Regions from separate parts of the Homo sapiens genome. Here region 1 is linked to region 2. The links come from fine-mapping of genetic effects on gene expression. A gene starts in region 2. The other region holds a variant in brackets. All regions are shown on one strand. Distances are between the middles of the regions. Region 1 overlaps FAM13B (family with sequence similarity 13 member B). Region 2 holds the start of REEP2 (receptor accessory protein 2).

The links. PIP is the estimated chance that this variant, and not a neighbour inherited with it, causes the effect. A credible set is the group of variants that fine-mapping cannot tell apart.
Region 1: its variant is the best candidate, but not a certain one, in a credible set for the expression of REEP2 in aorta (GTEx, PIP 0.74).

What each region holds. Positions count from the first base shown.
Region 1 is chr5:137,975,589-137,985,116 of GRCh38, forward strand. The region is part of intron 10 of FAM13B (family with sequence similarity 13 member B); the gene reads right to left. Among named protein-coding and RNA genes, the nearest start is that of FAM13B-AS1, 52 kb to the right of the region's middle. The variant C/T (reference allele first, on the strand shown) is at 4,580.
Region 2 is chr5:138,433,504-138,443,031 of GRCh38, forward strand. REEP2 (receptor accessory protein 2) reads left to right here and starts at 5,554. Exons shown (of 8, transcript NM_001271803.2): 1 at 5,554-5,737; 2 at 7,513-7,585; 3 at 7,882-7,958. The coding sequence starts at 5,706. It overlaps KDM3B (lysine demethylase 3B), which reads left to right. Exons shown (of 24, transcript NM_016604.4): 24 at 2,117-3,524. The coding sequence ends at 2,197. RefSeq lists a silencer at 5,382-5,801 and an enhancer at 6,187-6,720.

The DNA of each region.
Region 1 (9,528 bases), 460 kb before region 2:
TGTCTCCTCACCCTCTGCAAATGCATTTCATTTTAAAATGGTCAAAGCCATCTGAATTAAGTCCCCAAAACACCTCTCGCTTAAAAAAATATTCTATATATCCCCTTTTACTGAAGATTAAAAGTAGCCTCTCCTATTTAGGAATAGTCACTCAACTTGCACACTGAATCACCTTTCTTCCATCTCTCACTCCCAACCCCCTCTATGCAGTGTTCCCCTAACTACCCTGGGTTTTTTTTTTTCTTTCTGACATTTTTTAGTCTCTCCCTATCTAGTGAGTGATTCCTACTGACATGCTCAAATCTCCATCCTGTATCAAGAAAGCAGAAATGGGGGACGGGAGTGGGGAAGGGGGGAATATCTCTTCCACAACCAGACTGCTCAACTCTTCCTTTTTTTTTTTTTTTGAGACAGTCTTGCTCTGTTGCCCAGGCTGGAGTGCAGTGGCGCGATCTCCGCCTCCCGGGTTCATGCCATTCTGCCTCAGCCTCCCAAGTAGCTGGGACTACAGGCGCCTGCCACCACGCCTGGCTAATTTTTCGTATTTTTGTAGAGATGGGGTTTCACCATGTTAGCCAGGATGGTCTCCATCTCCTGACTTCGTGATCCACCCACCTCGGCCTCCCAAAGTGCTGGGATTACAGGCGTGAACCACCATGCCTGGCCTTCTCTTTCCTTTTAATTTCAATGCAAAACTTGTGCAAAAGGCATTCCACACACTGCAGCTTCTACCTACTCACCTGATATTCATTCTCAACCATGAAATCCTCTACCTACCAAAGCTCCTCTTTCTTTACCAATAATTTCTATCACTAAATGCAATAAATTTTCTTTAATTGGAATTTTTTGCTTAAATTATTTGATTATAAATCAGAGAAACTGTTGGAAACCTAAATATAAGAACATATGAAGAAAAGTAAAATCATCCATAACCTATCAGCCAGAAGGCCACTGTTGTTGCAGGAAGTCAGGGACCCCGAATGGAGGGACCAGCTGAAGCCATGGCAGAAGAACGTGGATTGTGAAGATTTCATGGACATTTATTAGTTCCCCAAATTAATACTTTTATAATTTCTTATGCCTGTCTTTACTGCTATCTTTGAACATAAATTGTGAAGATTTCATGGACGCTTATCACCTCCCCAATCAATACCCTTGTGATTTCCTATGCCTGTCTTTACTTTAATCTCTTAATCCCATCATTTTTGTAAACTGAGGAGGATGTATTTCGCCTCAGGACCCTGTGATGATTGTATTAACTGCACAAATTGTAGAGCAAGTGTGTTTGAACAATATGAAATCTGGGCACCTTGAAAAAAGAACAGGATAACAGCAATGTTCAGGGAACAAGAGAGATAACCTTAAACTCTGACTGCCGGTGAGCCAGGTGGAACAGTGCCATATTTCTCTTCTTTCAAAAGCAAATGGGAGAAATATCGCTGAATTCTTTTTCTCAGCAAGGAATACCCCTGAGAAAGAGAATGCACCCCTGAGGGTAGGTCTCTGAAATGGCCTCCTTGGGTGTGGCCATCTTCTATGGTCAAGACTGTAGGGATGAAATAAGCCCCAGTCTCCCATAGCGCTCCCAGGCTTATTAGGACGAGGAAATTCCCGCCTAATAAATTTTGGTCAGACCGGTTGCTCTCAAACCCTGTCTCCTGATAAGATGTTATCAATGACAACGTGTGCCTGAAACTTCATCAGCAATTTTAATTTCACCCCAGTCCTGTGGTCCTGTGATCTCGCCCTGCCTCCATTTGCCTTGTGATATTCTATTACCTTGTGAAGCATGTGATCTCTGTGACCCACACCCTATTCATACACTCCCTCTCCTTTTGAAAATCCCTAATAAAAACTTGCTGGTTTTACAGCTTGGGGGGCATCACAGAACCTACGAACATGTGATGTCTCCCCCGGATGCCCAGCTTTAAAATTTCTCTCTTTTGTACTCTGTCCCTTTATTTCTCAACCCAGCCAATGCTTAGGGAAAATAGAAAAGAACCTACATGACTATCGGGAGCAGGTTCCCTGATATCTCAAAGTGCTGGGATTACAGCTGGGATTACAGGCATGAACCACCATGCCTGGCCTTCTCTTTCCTTTTAATTTCAATGCAAAACTTGTGCAAAAGGCATTCCACACACTGCAGCTTCTACCTACTCACCTGATATTCATTCTCAACCATGAAATCCTCTACCTACCAAAGCTCCTCTTTCTTTACCAATAATTTCTATCACTAAATCCAATAAATTTTCTTTAATTATTTGATTATAAATCAGAGAAACTGTTGGAAACATAAATATAAGGACATATGAAGAAAAGTAAAATCATCCACAATCTATCAGACAGAAGGCCACTGTGAATATTCTGACTTGGCCTTTTGACTATGTGCCACACACACATGCAGTGCATGCACACAAAGAAATTGGGACTGCATTAGCTTTAGTAATCTACACTTGGTTTTGTATGTTTTGTTTTTTGTTTTTTGTTTTTTTTTCAAAATAACTTTACCTCACAACTATTACTTGGGCCTTTAAAATAATTTTAAATGACTCAACTATATCCTATGATATGGATATACTATGATTTATCTAATCATTTTCCATTTAGGACTTTTTGTGTTTCCCATTTTTTTTTCCGATGAAGAAACCCCCAGTAAGAATTCTAGTAGAAAAATCTTTGCATACACCTCTGATTTGTATGTATTTCCTTAGGAAAGAGTCCTAGATTTTGAAATTTCTGGATCAAAGGTTTAAGGTCTTTTGTTCTTACTGTTAATGTGTTTTCCAGGAAGTTTACAGCAATTTATACTTCCGATGTCTGTATAAGACCACTTACCTTAACCTACCCTCACCAGCATTAAATATATTGTTCCTGGGTATTCTTAAATTTTTTGTTCAACAGCAAAGGCAAAGAAAAAAAAAAAGCCATTTCATTAGACTTTTAACCACCCTAGCAAGCAAATAAAATTAAACTTACTCTTCTTATTTTTGTACCTTTGCCTCCCACCACCTTTTTTCCTCCTTTTACCTCTCTATTTTGACCAACTTTCAGACTCAGGAAAAAATCCCATCCTCTTTGACATTCCCAACTGCTATGGTCATGGCTGCTTTTTTTCCTCCAAAGAGCTAGAATACAGAGGTTCCCCAAGGGTTTCTTCAATCCCCGTTTATTCTATTCAAGTCACTGCTTTGGCAATGGCATTCACTCACAGACAAAATGAGCCTCCACCACCAGCCACAGCTCAAGACCTGAACATCTGCTTCATATAAACCACCTTGATATTCCAGTTCTGCAACACTGACCTCTTTTCCAATCTCTTAGTGTCTGTGTTTCTTACCCCAGTTTGCACCTAAATCTTAATCATTTTCACCTTTGGAATTTTCTCTATTTTTCCTTCCTTCCCTAGGGCTCACAGTTCAGACTTTTTTTTTTTTTTTTTGAGACAGGGTCTTACTCTTTCACCCAGGCTGGAGTGCAGTGGCATAATCTCAGCTCACTGCAACCTCCTCCTCCTGGGTTCAAGAGATTCTCCAGCCTCAGCCTCCCGAGTAGCTGGGATTACAAGCATGTGCCATCATGCCCCGCTAATTTTTGTATTTTTAGTAGAGATGCGTTTTCACCATGTTGGCCAGGCTGGTCTCGAACTCCTGACCTCAGGTGATCTGCCCACCTTGGCCTCCCAAAGTGCAAGGATTACAGGCATGAGCCACCATGCCCACCAGCTCAGATATTTTAAGTGCTCGCCAAATACAGTGCAAAAAGCCTACTGATTGTTGTTGTCCTTACCCCCAGTCTTTCCCACAAACTTTTTATGACTACTACAAAAAACCTTCTTCCTAAAATACAGATCTGGGTACATCATTCCCTCTGCTTCAAAGTTTTCTATATTTTTCTTCTACTGAGAAAATCTACAATTCTTAAGATAGTATTCCAGGCTCTACGTATGACCCAAATCTACCAATATTCCAGAATTATCTTCTACTATATATCCTCCCACAATACCCTGAGTTCTACAAGTAGCTCTGTTTCATTAACATTCAACATTACCCTGTAATCTTTACTTATACTATTCATTTTAGTTTCTTTCACAAATCTTGAACCAAATCCAGCCCTATAAAAAGCCAAGTTCAAAATCCCCCTCATTCCAAGACCTTCCATAACTACCCTGGCCAGAAGTTCTTTCCTCTCTTCTGCAAGACTATAGTGCCCTAATAGCACTAGTCATATTCTGTATTAGAAAGTATGTGCATGTACAACCTAGATTATCAAGTCATTGAAAACTTAAATCGACCAGGCACGGTGGCTCACGCCTATAATCCCAGCACTTTGGGAGGCCAAGGCGCGAGGATCACCTGAGGTCAGGAGTTTGAGACTAGCCTGATCAATAAGGAGAAATCCTGTCTCTACTAAAAAAAAAAAAAAAAAAAAAAAATTAGCCGGGCGTGGTGGCACATGCCTGTAATCCCAGGTACACAAGAGGCTGAGGCAGGAGAATCACTTGAACCTAGGAGACGGAGGTTGCACTGAGCCCACATCACACGACTGCACTCTAGCCGGGGCGACAAGAATGAAACTC[C/T]GTCTCAAGAAAAAAAAAAAAAAGAAAGAAAACTTAAATCAGGTATTTTTGCTTATACTGTCCAAGTAAACAGGTATTATTGTGTATTGCCCAACTGAACTAACTTATTCAAATAATAAGAGTATCACTGAACTTCTTAGCTGGGGTTGGGGGGAAGAAATGGTGACAGGTTTTTCAAGGCCAAGAACCCATCATTCATAAAGGTTTCCTAAAAACAATTTTAGAAAGAATTAGTTCCTGCTCTCTTTATAAAGTAATTGATACACTAATTTCTTTTTTTTTTTTTTTTTTTTGAGACAGGGTCTCACTCTGTCACCCAGGCTGCAGTGCAGTGGCACGATCTCAGCTCACTGCAACCTCCACCTCCCAGGCTCAAGCAATCCTCCCACCTAAGCCTCCCAAGTAGCTGGGACTACAGGCGTACGCCACCTAGCCTGGCTAATTTTTATTTTTGTAGAGACGGGGTTTCACCATGTTGCCCAGGCTGGCCTTGAACTCCTGGGCTCAAGCGATCCACCTGCCTCAGCCTCCCAAAGTGCTAGGATTACAGGCGTAAGCCACTGCGCCCAGCCTAATACACCAATTTCATTCAACAAATTATTTACCGAGTTGTTTACTAGCTTACTATGTGCCAGATGCTATTCTGGTCTTACATCAACAAATGCTTAATGAATACCTACTAAGTGTTCTAGATAATAGGGATGTAATAAAGAACAAAACAGACAAAAATTTCAGCCCTCATAAAGTTTTTTTTTTTTCTTCAAAGACAGGGTCTCACCGTGTCGCCCAGGCTGAACTGCAGTGGTGTGATCACCACGCACTGCAGCCTTACCTCCTGGGCTCAGGTGATCTTCCCACCTCAGCCTCCCAAGTAGCTGGGACCACAGGGGAGCACCACTACACCTGGCTATTTTTTTTTTTTTTTTTTTTTTTTTTTTTACCATTTTTGTACAGATGGGTTCTCCTCCTTACATTGCACAGGCAGGTTTCAAACTCCCAGGCTCAAATGACGCTCTCACCATGACCTCCCAAAGTGCTAGGATTACAGGCATGAGCCACTGTGAGTAGCCCCATGAAGTTTTAATCTAATAGTGGGAGACAGACAATAAACAGACTAGTAATATAAAAGAAATGGCTGGGCATGGTGCCTGATGCTTGTAATCCCAACACTTTAGGAGACTGAGGTAGGAAAATCGCTTGAGGCCAGGAGTTTGAGGTTACAGTGAGTATGATCATACCACTGCACTCCAGCCTGGGAAAGAGTGAGACCTTGTCTCTAAAAATAAAAATTAAAAGATATATAAAATAATTATAACACTATCTAAAGTGGGGAGGGGGCCAGGTGCAGTGGCTCACGCCTGTAATCCCAGCACTTTGGGAAGCTGAGGCACACAGATCACTTGAGGTCAGGAGTTTGAGACCAGCCTGGCCAACACTGTGAAACCCCGTCTCTACTAAAAATACAAAAATTAGCCGGGCGTGGTGGCACATGCCTGTAATCCCAGCTACCTGGGAGGCTGAGGCAGGAGAATGGCTTGAACCTGGGGGGCAGAGGCTGTACTGTGCCGAGACTGTGCCACTGCACTCCAGCCTGGGCAACAGAGACAGACTCCATCTCAGGAAAAAAAAAAAAAGTGCGGCGGAATGCGAAGCAGGGAAAAAGGACAAAAAGTTCAGAGACTGGAGTGGGTGGGTAAGTGGGAGGGCCTGCCATAAACAGACAGTGATGAGGAGATTTGGTAAAACTGAGGAAGTATCTGCAAGACTAGGTAAGAATGTAAGCTAAGGAGATATCCACAAATAAGCAATCCAGATAGGACTTATGATTTAGCTGTCTCAATCCTGACTATCACAGCCAATATTCCGTAGTGCCTATAGCTATATTTTGATAGCTAGAAGGCACTGGAAGGTTTTAGGAAGAGAAGTGGCATTATCTAATTTTCCTCTTAAAAGGATCATTCTGGCTCAGTGTTGAGAACATACCATCAAGAAACAAAGATGAGGAGATTAATTAGGAGGCAATATTAATCCAGGTGAGAGGATGGCAGTAGAAACAGTAAAAAGTGGTCAGACTTATCTTCTGAAGTAAGTCATAAAACCTTTGGCTGGGCGTGGTGGCTCAGGCCTATAATCCCAGCACTTTGGGAGGCCACGGCAGGCAGATCACCTGAGGTCAGGAGCTCGAGACCAGTCTGGCCAACATAGTGAAACTCTGTCTCAACTAAAAATACAAAAAATTAGCCGGGCATGGTGGCAGGCACCTGTAATCTCAGCTACTCGGGAGGCAGAGGTTGTGGTGAGCTGAGATTGTGCCACTGCTCCAGCCTGGGCAAGAAGAGCGAAACTCCATCTCAAAAACAACAACAACAACAACAACAACCTTCATTCCAGAAGTATCTACCCTATACCTGGATGAAAGGAATGCCCTTATCTCTGAATACACAGGGACATAGAAAAGAATCTGAACAAACAGGCCTTGGTTAATGAGCCGCCCTTTATTTATCATCCTCTTTGTCTAATTATTCATCCGCACCACTGTCCACTTTTCATCAAACCAAAGCATTAAAATACACAGGTGTGTCTGTTTCTGTGGGTCTTGATTTCTGAAGGTGTTCATGTCATGTAAAACTTACATTAAATAAATGTGCATGCTTTTCTCTTGTTAATGTCTTCTGTTACAGATGCCTCAGCTATGAACCTAATGATGGGTAAGGAAAGAAATCTTTCCTACTCAACAGATGCTTGGTAAAAATATACCAGTGGAAATGCTGGGTGCCTAGTTGGATATAGCAATCTAAAGTTCCAAAACAGGTCTGGACTCGAGATACAAATTTGGGAATCAGTAGCACATAGATGGTAGGTAGAGCCATTAGACTAAACAAGATTACCAAGGAAGTGAATAAAAATAAGCAATCTGAGAAATGGGCCCTGGGCCATTCCAAATTTAAGAGATTCAGAAGAGGAAGAGCAATCAGCAGAGGGGAATGAGAAAGAACAGCCAGTGTAGGTAAAAAAAAAAAAAAAAAAAAAAAAAAAAAAAAAAAAAAACCGAGTGAGATATCCTGAATGCCAAGTGAAAAAAGTATATCAAGGTAGTGGGAGTAATTAATTGAATCAAACCTTGCTGTTAGGTCAAGTAAAACATTCAACAGACATCACTGGTGACTTGCAAAAGCTATTTCAGAGGAATGAATGGTCGGAGGAAAGGATCACTGCAGTGAATTTAAGAGAGAATGGGAGGAGAAGAGTTAAAGAAAAGAGACACAGACAATTCTTCCAGCAATTCTATTTATAAAGGGAAGCAGAGAAATCAGGGTGTATGTGCTAGAATGGGATGGGGGGAGTCGAGAGAGGGTTTTTTCTGAACTTGGAAGAAATAACAGTATAAATGTTTTACACTGATGGGAATGACTAGGTAGACAGGCAGAAACTGATAATCCAGGAAAGGGCAAGAGGACAACTATAGAAGCAATAACTGAAAAGCTGTTCATCTAATACACCCAAGTCTGTGAAACTAACAGTGGCAGCTTAACTTCTTTGAAATGTCTTCTAGTTTATAAAATAATTTTATAATATGTTCACATCTTTTTATCATAATCCTCTAATATAGGTATTACCCCCACTTATTTAGAGAAAAGCAAAATGCAGTTCAGAAGTCAGGTAACTTGGCCAAAGTCACACTGATACTGAACAAAGGCAGAATACAAAACCTAAGTCTTCCTACTCTAAATTCCTCTTTAGCCCTACTTTAGTGGATGGTTTAGAATGAAAATATACTGAGGAAACCCACCTTATCTATTAATTTAGCATCTTATTTTTAAAAGTAGTATCAAAATTACATTTTGAATGTCTTAGATGCTGCTTTTTACATTTAATGGCAATTATATTAAAAAAAGTTACTAACAAATGTGACAGTGACAATAATTTAGTCATTATTACAACAATGTTCCTAGGTTTCTGCTAATCAAGAAAGGATGCCAACAGTGGAGGTTCAGAACATGCCACACCAAATTATTCCTCTTTGGCATAAGGATTATTTTCAGCTTATTATTTTCAGAAATAGCAAACACAGGATAATACAGAGAAGTTACCCTTTTATAAAAGAAATTTTCATCTGTAGTAGAAATCTCCATTTCTACGGGTGTCTCCTCTCTGTACGAGCAAGAGAAAGATGACTCTAAATCACTAAAAACTACCAATCTTGAGAGCTAACCTTAACTTTGCTTACAGTGCTTTTCCTGGTCATCTCATTACAACTAGGTCTCCCCAACACCCTTTTTTCCTTTGTTTCAGGACATGATGGTATTTAAGCCACCTCTGAGAGATTTACTCACTTCCCCCGAGTATCTCCCATGTATATATGAGGTATACATGTCTTAAAACTTGTTTTTCTCTTGTTAACCAATATTCTGTTACAGGGATCTATCCCATCCTAAGAAGTGTATGAGAATATTATATGTTCTCCCCTATACCATGTTCTTCAGCAAAACTCCTAAGAAATACGGAAGCTGTCTTAAAAATAACAAAAGTCAACCATAATACCACCTAGCTACCTCTGCTGACATCATGATTTCTAGGAAAATAATTTAAAATAAGTTGTTTTTTTTTTTCTTTTTTTTGAGATGGAGTCTCACTCTGTCGCCCAGGCTGGAGTGCAATGGCGCAATCTTGGCTCACTGCAAGCTCTGCCTCCTGGGTTCATGCCTTTCTCCTGCCTCAGCCTCCCCGGTAGCTGGGATTACAGGCGCCCACCACCACGCCCGGCTAATTTTTTTGTATTTTTAGTAGAGATGGGGGTTCACCATGTTAGCCAGGATGGTCTCGATCTCCTGACCTCATGATCTGCCCGCCTTGGCCTCCCAAAGTGCTGGGATTACAGGCGTGAGCCACCACACCCAGCCAATAAGTTGTTTTATACTTCTCTACCCAGTGATGTTTCCTAAACTCTG
Region 2 (9,528 bases):
TTTAAGTGATTCTCCTGCCTCAGCCTCCCATGTAGCTGGGATTGCAGGCATGCACCACCATACCCAGATAATTTTTGTATTTTTTGGTAGAGACGTGGTTTCACCATTTTGGCAAGGCTGGTCTCGAACTCCCGACCTCAGGTGATCTGCCCGCCTCCACCTCCCAAAGCGCTGGAATTACAGGAGTGAGCCACTGCACCCAGCCAACCATAGTTTTTATACAAAGTATAATCAACGTTGGTGTTTGTTTATTGAGATGGAGTCCCGCTCCGTTGCCCACGCTGGAGGGCAGTGGCGTGATCTTGCCTCACTGCAGCCTCTGCCTCCTGGGTTCAAGCGATTCTCCTGCCTCAGCCTCCCGAGTATCTGGGGATTACAGGCACGTGTCATCACACCGAGCTAATTTTTGTATTTTTAGTAGAGACAGGGTTTCACCATGTTGGCCAGGCTGGTCTTGAACTCCCGACCTCAGGTGATCCACCTGCCTCGGCTTCCCAAAATGCTGAGATTACAGGCGTGAGTCACCGTGCCCGTCCAACATTGGTGTTTACATAGAATGAGAATATAAAGGTAACATGTCACCTTATCCATAACACCTTTCCCGAGCTAGGGATGTTGGGTGTGTTTCTGCAGTCCCAGCCACTCAGGAGGCTGAGGTGGGAGGATTACTTGAGCCCAGGAGTTTTGAAGCTCTCGTGACCTATGATCACCCCACTACACTCCAGCCTGGGCAACAGACTCTGTCTCTTTATTTAAAAACAACAGGCTGGGCGCGGTGGCTCACGCCTGTAATCCCAACACTTTGGGAGGCCGAGGTGGGCAGATCACAAGGTCAGGAGTTCGAGACCAGCCTGGCCAATATGGCGAAACCCCGTCTCTACTAAAAATACAAAAATTAGCCAGGCATGGTGGTGGGCGCCTGTAGTCCCAGCTACTTGGGAGGCTGAGGCTGGAGAATCGCTTGAACCCAGGAGGCGGAGGTTGCAGTGAGCTGAGATGGCGCCACTGCACTCCAGCGTGGGCAACAGTGTTAGACTCCATCTCAAAAAAAAAAAAAAAAGACCTTTCCTGACTACCCTGTTTAGAATAACAACTCCTGCTCCAGCACTACCAGTCCCACTTTCACTACTTTATTTTTCCTGTAGTATTTTCACCATCTGAGATATAGCTATAGATACAGATATAGATATATTTTTTTAATCTGTTACTTAACCCTACTAGAATGTAAGCTATTTAAGCTCTGTGAAGGCAGGAATTTTACATTTTACTCACTGCTTTTCCTTAGCACAATGTCTGACACATAGTAGGTATTCATAAATCTTTGTTGAAGCAATGCAAAAAAATTAATGGAGAATAGTAAAAGAAGGACTTGGATGCCCATGACCCAGCTTAAGAAATTATAGCACACATACATATACAGCAACTACATGGTTGAAGCCCCCATGTACCCTTCCCCTTTGCATTTCCCCGCTTTTCCTCCCCAGAAATAACCTCAGTTTTCTTGTCAGCCCTTTAAAAGAAAGCTGTCTTTATTCTCTTCACCTTAATATGCCTGTTCACTTTTTTCAATAACTTTTATTGTGTGTTCCAATTTCACAGGTAATATATCCAAATCAGAAAACATATAAGCACGAAGGGAAAAAATAGGCCATAATCCTGCTTTCCCCTCTTGTTTTAATGCATCCTTATTAGCTGTAGAACCTTAAGGAAGCCTCTTAACCATATAAGGAAACAAAGTTCTCCAGGTGTTCACTGTGGCCTTAGTTTCCGCAGTTTCTCCTCTGTAAATTGGGCATGATAATAATAGAACCTACCTCATAGGATTCTGTCAAGGATTAAGCAAAGGTCCACATAAAGAGCTCAGCAGCAGCGCCTGCCCAGGACATAGTAAGCACATAAATGATGGTGATCAGATGGCCTTTCACATAACTTCATTATTCTTTTTTGAGTACACACCTCATGCCCTATGTGATTTGTAAATGACTGTGGGGATTGATACAGGAACGCACAGTCCTTTTTGGGAGTTTCCCCACTAAACCAGTAGGCTTACAGTCAAGGTAGAACGTACATTTGCATGGGGCTGCTGTGAACTGACTTTGCTGTACACCTTCTCTAGGTGAAGAACATCATTTACCATGCAGTGAAAGATGCGGTTGGCACCCTCAAGGCTCATGAATCCAAACTGGCAAGGTCCTAGGCATGGAGAAACTCCAAGCTCCTCTGTGAAGCAGGTCTTTCACTCACAACACTTAACAGGGAACGGCAGGGCTCTTTGCTGGAGCAGAGGCCCTTCACCCAGAGCCAGTGTGGTCAGTATTCCAAACTCTCCAGCCACTCTCTTCTACGCTGCCTCAACACTGAAGGTTGACACAGGAAAGTCGTACTGTTCACACACACAGTTTGAGACTCCAAGCCAAGAGTGCCACATCCCTATCCTGTGGCCTTTTGGAAATCCAAATTGCCTGAACATGGCGGGGCTTTCCTGCACATTCTCCTGATTTGAGATTCACGGGCACACCTTTCTTTTCTTTTCCTCTTGTGCCTAGTTAAGTGGAAATGTGTTTGGAGATAGGGGAAATCACATAACTGGTACAAGTATGGGGTAATTGCTTAAACATGCCTGGTGGAAGTCTGATAGCGTCTCTGCACGTGACCTCTGACAAAGCCCATCCCAGGAGACGGGGTGAAGCTATTCCCCACACTCTCCTGTGAACACTGGAGTCTTGCAAGACCCAGGGAGAACCCACTGCTTTTCCCAGGAGGCTCCAGGATTAGGAAATGTGTGTATTTAGTGAAAAATAGGTTTGTAGTGAAATAGTTACTATTTCATGAAAGTAGATATTTTTAGAATTTTTGAAATACCACAGTTGTTTTCCTGGATTATAAGGAAAGGCACATTACATTTAGTCTTCCTTTCGATATAAAACTCTTTGAAGAAATATGATTTTTAGAAATCAGCTACCCATTATAGCACAAAATCAGCCAAAGCAGAATTTTTAAAAATTGGCTTTTTTAGGATTCTTTTTCTCCCCCTCCCATCTTAGTCTTACCTTGAGGGAACAGTCATATGAGAAGGAACTTTGTCACATCTAAGCTGTGGTGTGTTCCCCATGTGTGTGTACAACACTGGTGACTCCAGGAACCATTTTCACCTATTACCAGTGTTCCCTGGGGACTCCTCTTAATGTTTCCAAATGGGAAGGACAGTTGATTTCCAACATGAGGTTTTTTGTTTTTTATCCAGAAATATTTTCAGCAAAACTTTCCAACTGAGTGGAGTCTGATTAAGGATTTATTTGAAAATGGTGGGATTCATTGGCCCATAGGTACATTGGAAAATGTATATCTCTCCAGCTGTACTGTAGTGCCCTGCAGGCTGTTTATATGTTCACAGTTACTTTTTTTTTTTTTTTTAAATAAAAGTCATTTAATGTAGAATACTTTTAATTTCACTTTCTGTATTTTAATTTTGTTGAAGGGCTGATTGGGATTTCCATGTTCTTATTAAAAATCTAACAAATCTGTTTGGAGTGGACTAAATTATTCGTGTACCAACCCTTCTAAAATCAACATCAGATTGGGAGTTGGGTTGGAGGTGGGGGATTCATTTCCAGGTCTTCATGACTGTGCTACACCCAGATATTTTTCTTTGCTTGTTGAGACTGTGCCATGTTAGAAAAAAGGAAAGTGCCAGGGTGAGGTCAGTATGGTTTGGGGAATTGGGGGTAAGGGGAAGGGGCCACATGAATTAGAGGGTAGAAAGAGAGACATGTTTCCCCATACTTTATGCTTTGTGAATGGAGTGGGAAAGTTGGGGTCCTCCCTTCCTGTGGCAGAGTCTGGGGGGAAGGGTCATGGTGTGTGGCCTCAGCAAAGTTGGACAGTCTGTGGTGGGATTCTTAAGCAGGCAGCCTGGCTGCCTACATGAAACGTGTGGCCATAGATCCACCTTAGAGATGGTGGGAGACACTCATGTGGGATTTATCAAGCAGTAATTAAAGTGTTTCATTGTGGGGTGATAACAGACTGCATTCCAATTAGGAGATGTTTTCTGGAGAGGAAGTTGTAAAGAATAGCAAGAGGGGTTATCAGAGGCTGCTTTTCTGGAACGTTTTGGGAAACATCTTCCAAAGTGTTTGAACCTGGAAATATAATTTACCAGGTTAGAAATAGACCATTGTGTTGTTCAGGGATACTGAGCTTGAATAAGACCATGACTCTTTGAAATACACAGTTCTGAATGTGTCCTTTCAGCCCAGATGGGCACAGGTTGATGCTGTGGTCACCCGAAGGATTACAACTCAACATAAAGGGTAGAGGAATGCAGAAGCTCTAAAATGGGACAGGAAAGGAGAGCAATAGGGCTGGGGGTGTTGGTGGATGGTTGGAGGTTGGTTGCTTTCCTGAAGATCAGGAGGCAGGCTAGCCTACATTCTGGATATAAATGTCTTTAGAATCAGGACATTCACTGCCACTAGTGCTTGCTGATGGGGGTGGAACTGGAGCCCCAGGACCCTCTCGCAGCCCCTCTGTTTGAAAAGAAGGTTGACCCTTTGTTGTCAGTAACCACATTGAGAGCATAAAGCTCTGTTCCGCTGCAAAGCTTAGGAGCTGACAACCTAAAAAAGCAGACCAGCAGCCCGGTGGCTCACACCAGTGATCCCAGCACTTTGGGAGGCTGAGGCGGGTGGATCGCTTGAGCTCAGGAGTTGGAGATCAGCCTGGGCAATATTGCAAAACCCCATCTTGGCAAAAAAAAACAAAAAACAAAAAAACAGGAATTAGCTGGTGGTGTTTTGGGCCTGTAGTCCCAGCTACTCGGGAGGCTGAGGCGGGAGGATCATTCAAGCCCAGGAGGTGTGCTGAGATTGTGCCACTGCACTCCAGCCTGAGCGACAGAGTGAGGACCTGTCTCAAAAAAACAAAACATCATCTGGTCAGGGGAGATCCTCTTTCAACGGGGTGAGAAGGAGTGGGGTGGACAGGTGCGGCTGTACCTGTGACTCAGGAGCTCAGGTGGATGTCTTCAGGGCCTGTAATGAGGAGAGTTTGCTAGTCAGCAGTTGGGGGATGTAACCTGTTTAAAGTAGGCTTCCTGGGGTCATCTTAGCAGCATGACTTGGTGGCTTTGTGACTCTCAACAGATTATTGAGCCTTAAGCTTCTCATTCCCTTATCTTCAAAATGAGGGCTTTTATAGCGCCTGCCTTATAGGGTGGTCAAGAGGATTCACTGGCAACGCAGTGAAGCTCTTAGCACAGGGGCTGGCACACAGTAAGCGCCTGGTGTGGGCAGGGCAGGAGGTGGGCAGGGGTCGATTTCAGGATGTAACCATGGAGACCTCCACGACAACAGCCTAGGGCTTGAAACCCAAGAAAGATGAACAAGCGATTCGAGGAAGGCAGGGCACTGAGGGTCGGAGGCGCATGCCCGGCCACAGCAGGTGCCGGGGCGGGGGCGCGCCGCCGCCGCCGCGGCGGCCTCCCGGCCTCCCCTTTAAGAGCCGCCACCGCCCACGGCCCGCCGCTGCGGCAGGGACCTCCCCTTTAACGGCGGCGCTGGGCGCTCCGCTGCCCCCGCGGCGGCTGCTGCAGCGGCTGCTGCTGCTACTGCGGCTCCTGCTGCCGCCGCCGCCGCCGCTCGGCCTCAGGCAGCTGCATCCTCGGCCGGGCCGGGTCCCCGCCCCGCGCCGCGCCCGGCCCCGCCATGGTGTCCTGGATCATCTCTCGCCTGGTGGTGTGAGTGCGGCGGCGGCGGGGGGTGATGCGGGCTGTGATGGAGGGCGGGGGTGTTAAAGCCCGGGTGGACTTCTCCGAAGCTTCGTGCAGCAGAGTCACCTAAAGGCGCTGCGTCCTTATTTGGGGCCCCCAGAGACATGGAGATGTGGCACCCAGGACTGGAGGGGGGAATATTAGGGGAGCGTGGCAGGCCTGGCTTCCCAGGGACCTCACCCACATTCTTTATTAATAACCTCTTTTATTTCTACCGTCCTTGCTCCTGCGCCCATCCTAGAGGCTGAGCAGCACGGCTTGATTTAAAAGGGGAGGCAGGCGCGTCCCCTCCCCCACCTAGCAGGTCTGGGCTGGAGGAGATCCTCAGACCCGGGCCCTGTCCCTCTGGGGGAGGTAACAGGGTGATGGAAGAGAGTGGAGCAAGGCAGGGCCTCATCATCATTCCGCAGCTCAGAGCCATCACCAGGCCCCTTGGTCTCTCCCTTCCACTCACTGTCAGGAGACTGGGGACGAGGGCATATGCCCTTAGGCCCCCTAGGGAGGAAGTCTGGGTATCGGGAAGCAGAAATGCTCGGAGGACAAAGTGTGAGAGGTAACTGGGAGAGGGGATGTGTGTGCTCAGCCTGGGATTGTGGACCCCGCTGGGGGAGGACGCTCCGTGGCCTTCATTCCAGGCTGCCAGCCACACTGTGGAGCTGTGTCTCTGGCACCTCCCCGGGCCCCAGGAGGGAACACACACCATTCCCCACGAGCCCAGACTTTGTCCTTGAGGATTCTGCTCCGCACTCCACTTGCACCAGCCGGTTTGGAAGTATCCCTCCTGTCCATGTGGAAACAGGCGACAGCCACACATTGTCAAGGGGCTGAGCCTGACAGGGGCTCCTCGTGGTTCTCGGAGCTATCCCCTGCCCTAATGAGGACACTGCCCCTCGGCCTCCACCGTTGGGGACTGACACCGGCAGCCCCACCCTGCTCCCTTCTTCCCATTCGGTACAGCCGGGCCGGCCAAGTGCTTCTGTCCTGGTTTACTCTAGACTCCTTCTCTTCCCCCACCCATCCCAGGGGGAATGGAGGGGCCTCACGCCTCCATGTGGCCTTCAGGGTGGCTGCTTCTCTCTTGCCTGGGCAAGCCCCAAAGGGCATCGGTCCTCTTCTTTCCCGGCCTGTGTCTTGTCTGCATTCTGTACTTGGATCACCAGCGGGGCCCTCCCCTGAGCCCTGTCCCTGTGGTGTTTACATGGGGGAATAAGCCTCTTTGCCTCTCTCAGGGCCTCCTGCCCCTGTGCCCTCTGTTCCCTAGGGCCCCAGGGCCACAGTGGTACCTCTGCCTGCCAGGTAGGGTGCCCTGTTAGGTGGTGTCAGGTTCCCTCGCAGAGCCTGGCTCTGAGGGAGGTGGAGGGTAAGGGCAGATGGGTGTGAATGGGCATGAGGTCAAGAAGGAAGACACCCTGTGGCAGTGACCTGACTCCCAGTCTCCATGACATATTTGTGTGTAACCAAGGATCATGGCGCAAGGGACTACATTGGACCCTCTGGCCTCTGGGCCTTTCCCTGCCTCCGGGGCTAGAGAAAAACTGAACAGTGGAGCGGGGAGGGGGCATCACCCTACCTGGCTGGGCATGTTCCATGCTGCTTTGACCTTAACCCCTGACCTGAGTTCATCAGTCCAGCGGGGAGTTCTGTCTCTCTTCCCATTACTTACCCAGGGGCTGATGCGGAGCTGGGAGGGAGAGGCCACTGCCCTTGGCTGAGAGGCCCAGTAACCATGCCTGCCTCCCTAGGCTCATCTTTGGCACCCTGTACCCAGCCTATTCTTCCTACAAGGCCGTGAAGACAAAAAACGTGAAGGAATATGTGAGTGGATGACCCTTCACCCCCTACCCAACCCACATGGCACAGAGAGGGGAGGGCACTGGGTCCTATTACAGATGGGGGTGACTTTGCACCAACACTGTCAGCCACTAACAAGACCCACCAGCAAAGGAGGGCCCTGGGTGTCCCACACAGCGCCTCCAACATGGCTGGCAGGCAGAAGTGGGGTCCTTGGTGTTCTCCCCAGCCCAGGCATGTTCAACAGGCAGAGCTGGGGTCCTGGGTGTCCCTGGCCCCTCAGCCCCGTGCCCCAGCCAGCGCTTCCCTCTGTCCCTCAGGTGAAATGGATGATGTACTGGATCGTCTTTGCCTTCTTCACCACGGCCGAGACGCTCACGGATATAGTGCTCTCCTGGTGAGGTCCAGCGTCCCCTCCTGTATCTCAGGGCCCAGGGCCTCTGCCTTTCTCTACCCAGCCAGCCAAACAAAAGACTGGGCCTGGGGGTGAAGCTCCTCCCATTCCTGACAATTTCATGGGGTCCTTGATATCTCCCCTCTCATGCCTAACTTGACCTGCAGAAGAACAGACATAGTAGTGCCAGGCGAGGGGGCTCACACCTGTAATCCCAGCACTTTGGGAGGTCTAAGTGGGTGGATCATTTGAGGTCAGGAGTTTGAGACCAGCCTGGCCAACATGGTGAAACCCCGTCTCCACTAAAAATACAAAAAAAAAATAGCTGGGCATGGTGGCGCCCCTGTAATCCCAGCTACTAGGGAGGCTGAGGCAAGAGAATTGCTTGAACCCAGGAGGTAGAGGTTGCAGTGAGCCGAGATCGCGCCATTGCACTCCAGCCTGGGCAACAGAGTGAGACTCCGTCTCAAAAAAAAAACAAACAAACAAGGAGTAAGAACAAACATAATCCCCATGTTTCTTTCTGGCGGCAGCCAGAGCCCCTCAGTGGAATTCAGGAAACCCGCTTCTGCCATGCTGCCTGCGACCTTAGGCAGGTCACAGCTCTCGAGGCCTCAGTTTCCTTATTTGTAAAATAGGCATATGATTCACTCCTATAAATGCTGGATACTTGCATTTCCAAGGCATTTTCCAGGCTGTACTAGACTACGTATGTATGAGCACTTTGAGGACAGGGAATATGTCTTAATCATCTGTATATTCACAGCAGGAACTCAAAAATGTTTACTGAATGATCAGATACCTCTTGGAAGAGGGGACTAATAACACAGTTCATCGGAACTCAAGAAGAGAATTTTACCAAGGGGGAGAGGACAAGAGATCATTACATTTATAGATAAGACCCTTGCATTTGAGAAAAATAGTTTTAGAAGAGGAAAGAGATGGAGAGATGGGTTAAAAATTGAGGGTAAAGGCCGGGTGTGGTGGCTCACGCCTGTAATCCCAGCACTTTGGGAGGCCAAGGCAGGCAGATCACGAGGTCAGGAGATCGAGACCATCCTGGCCAACACGGTGAAACCCCGTCTCTACTAAAAATACAAAAATTAGCTAGGCATGGCAGGGCGCAGTGGCTCACACCTGTAATCCCAGCACTTTGGGAGGCCGAGGTGGGCGGATCATGAAGTCAGGAGATGGAGAGCATCCTGTCCAATACGGTGAAACCCCATCTCTACTAAAAAACAAAACACAAAAAATTAGCCGGGCGTGGTGGCGGGTGTCTGTAGTCCCAGCTACTCTGGAGGCTGAGGCAGGAGAACGGTGTGAACCCAGGAGGCGGAGCTTGCAGTGAGTCGAGATCGAGCCACTGCACTCCAGTCTGGGCAACAGGGTGAGATTCTGTCTCAAAAAAAAAAAAAAAAATAGCTAGGTATTATGGCACCTACTTGTAATCCCAGCTACTTGGGAGGCTGAGACAGGAGAATCGCTTGAACCCAGGAGGCGGAGGTTGCCGTGAGCCGAGATCGTGCCACTGCACTCCAGCCTGGCAACAGAGCAAGACTCAGTCTCAAAAAAA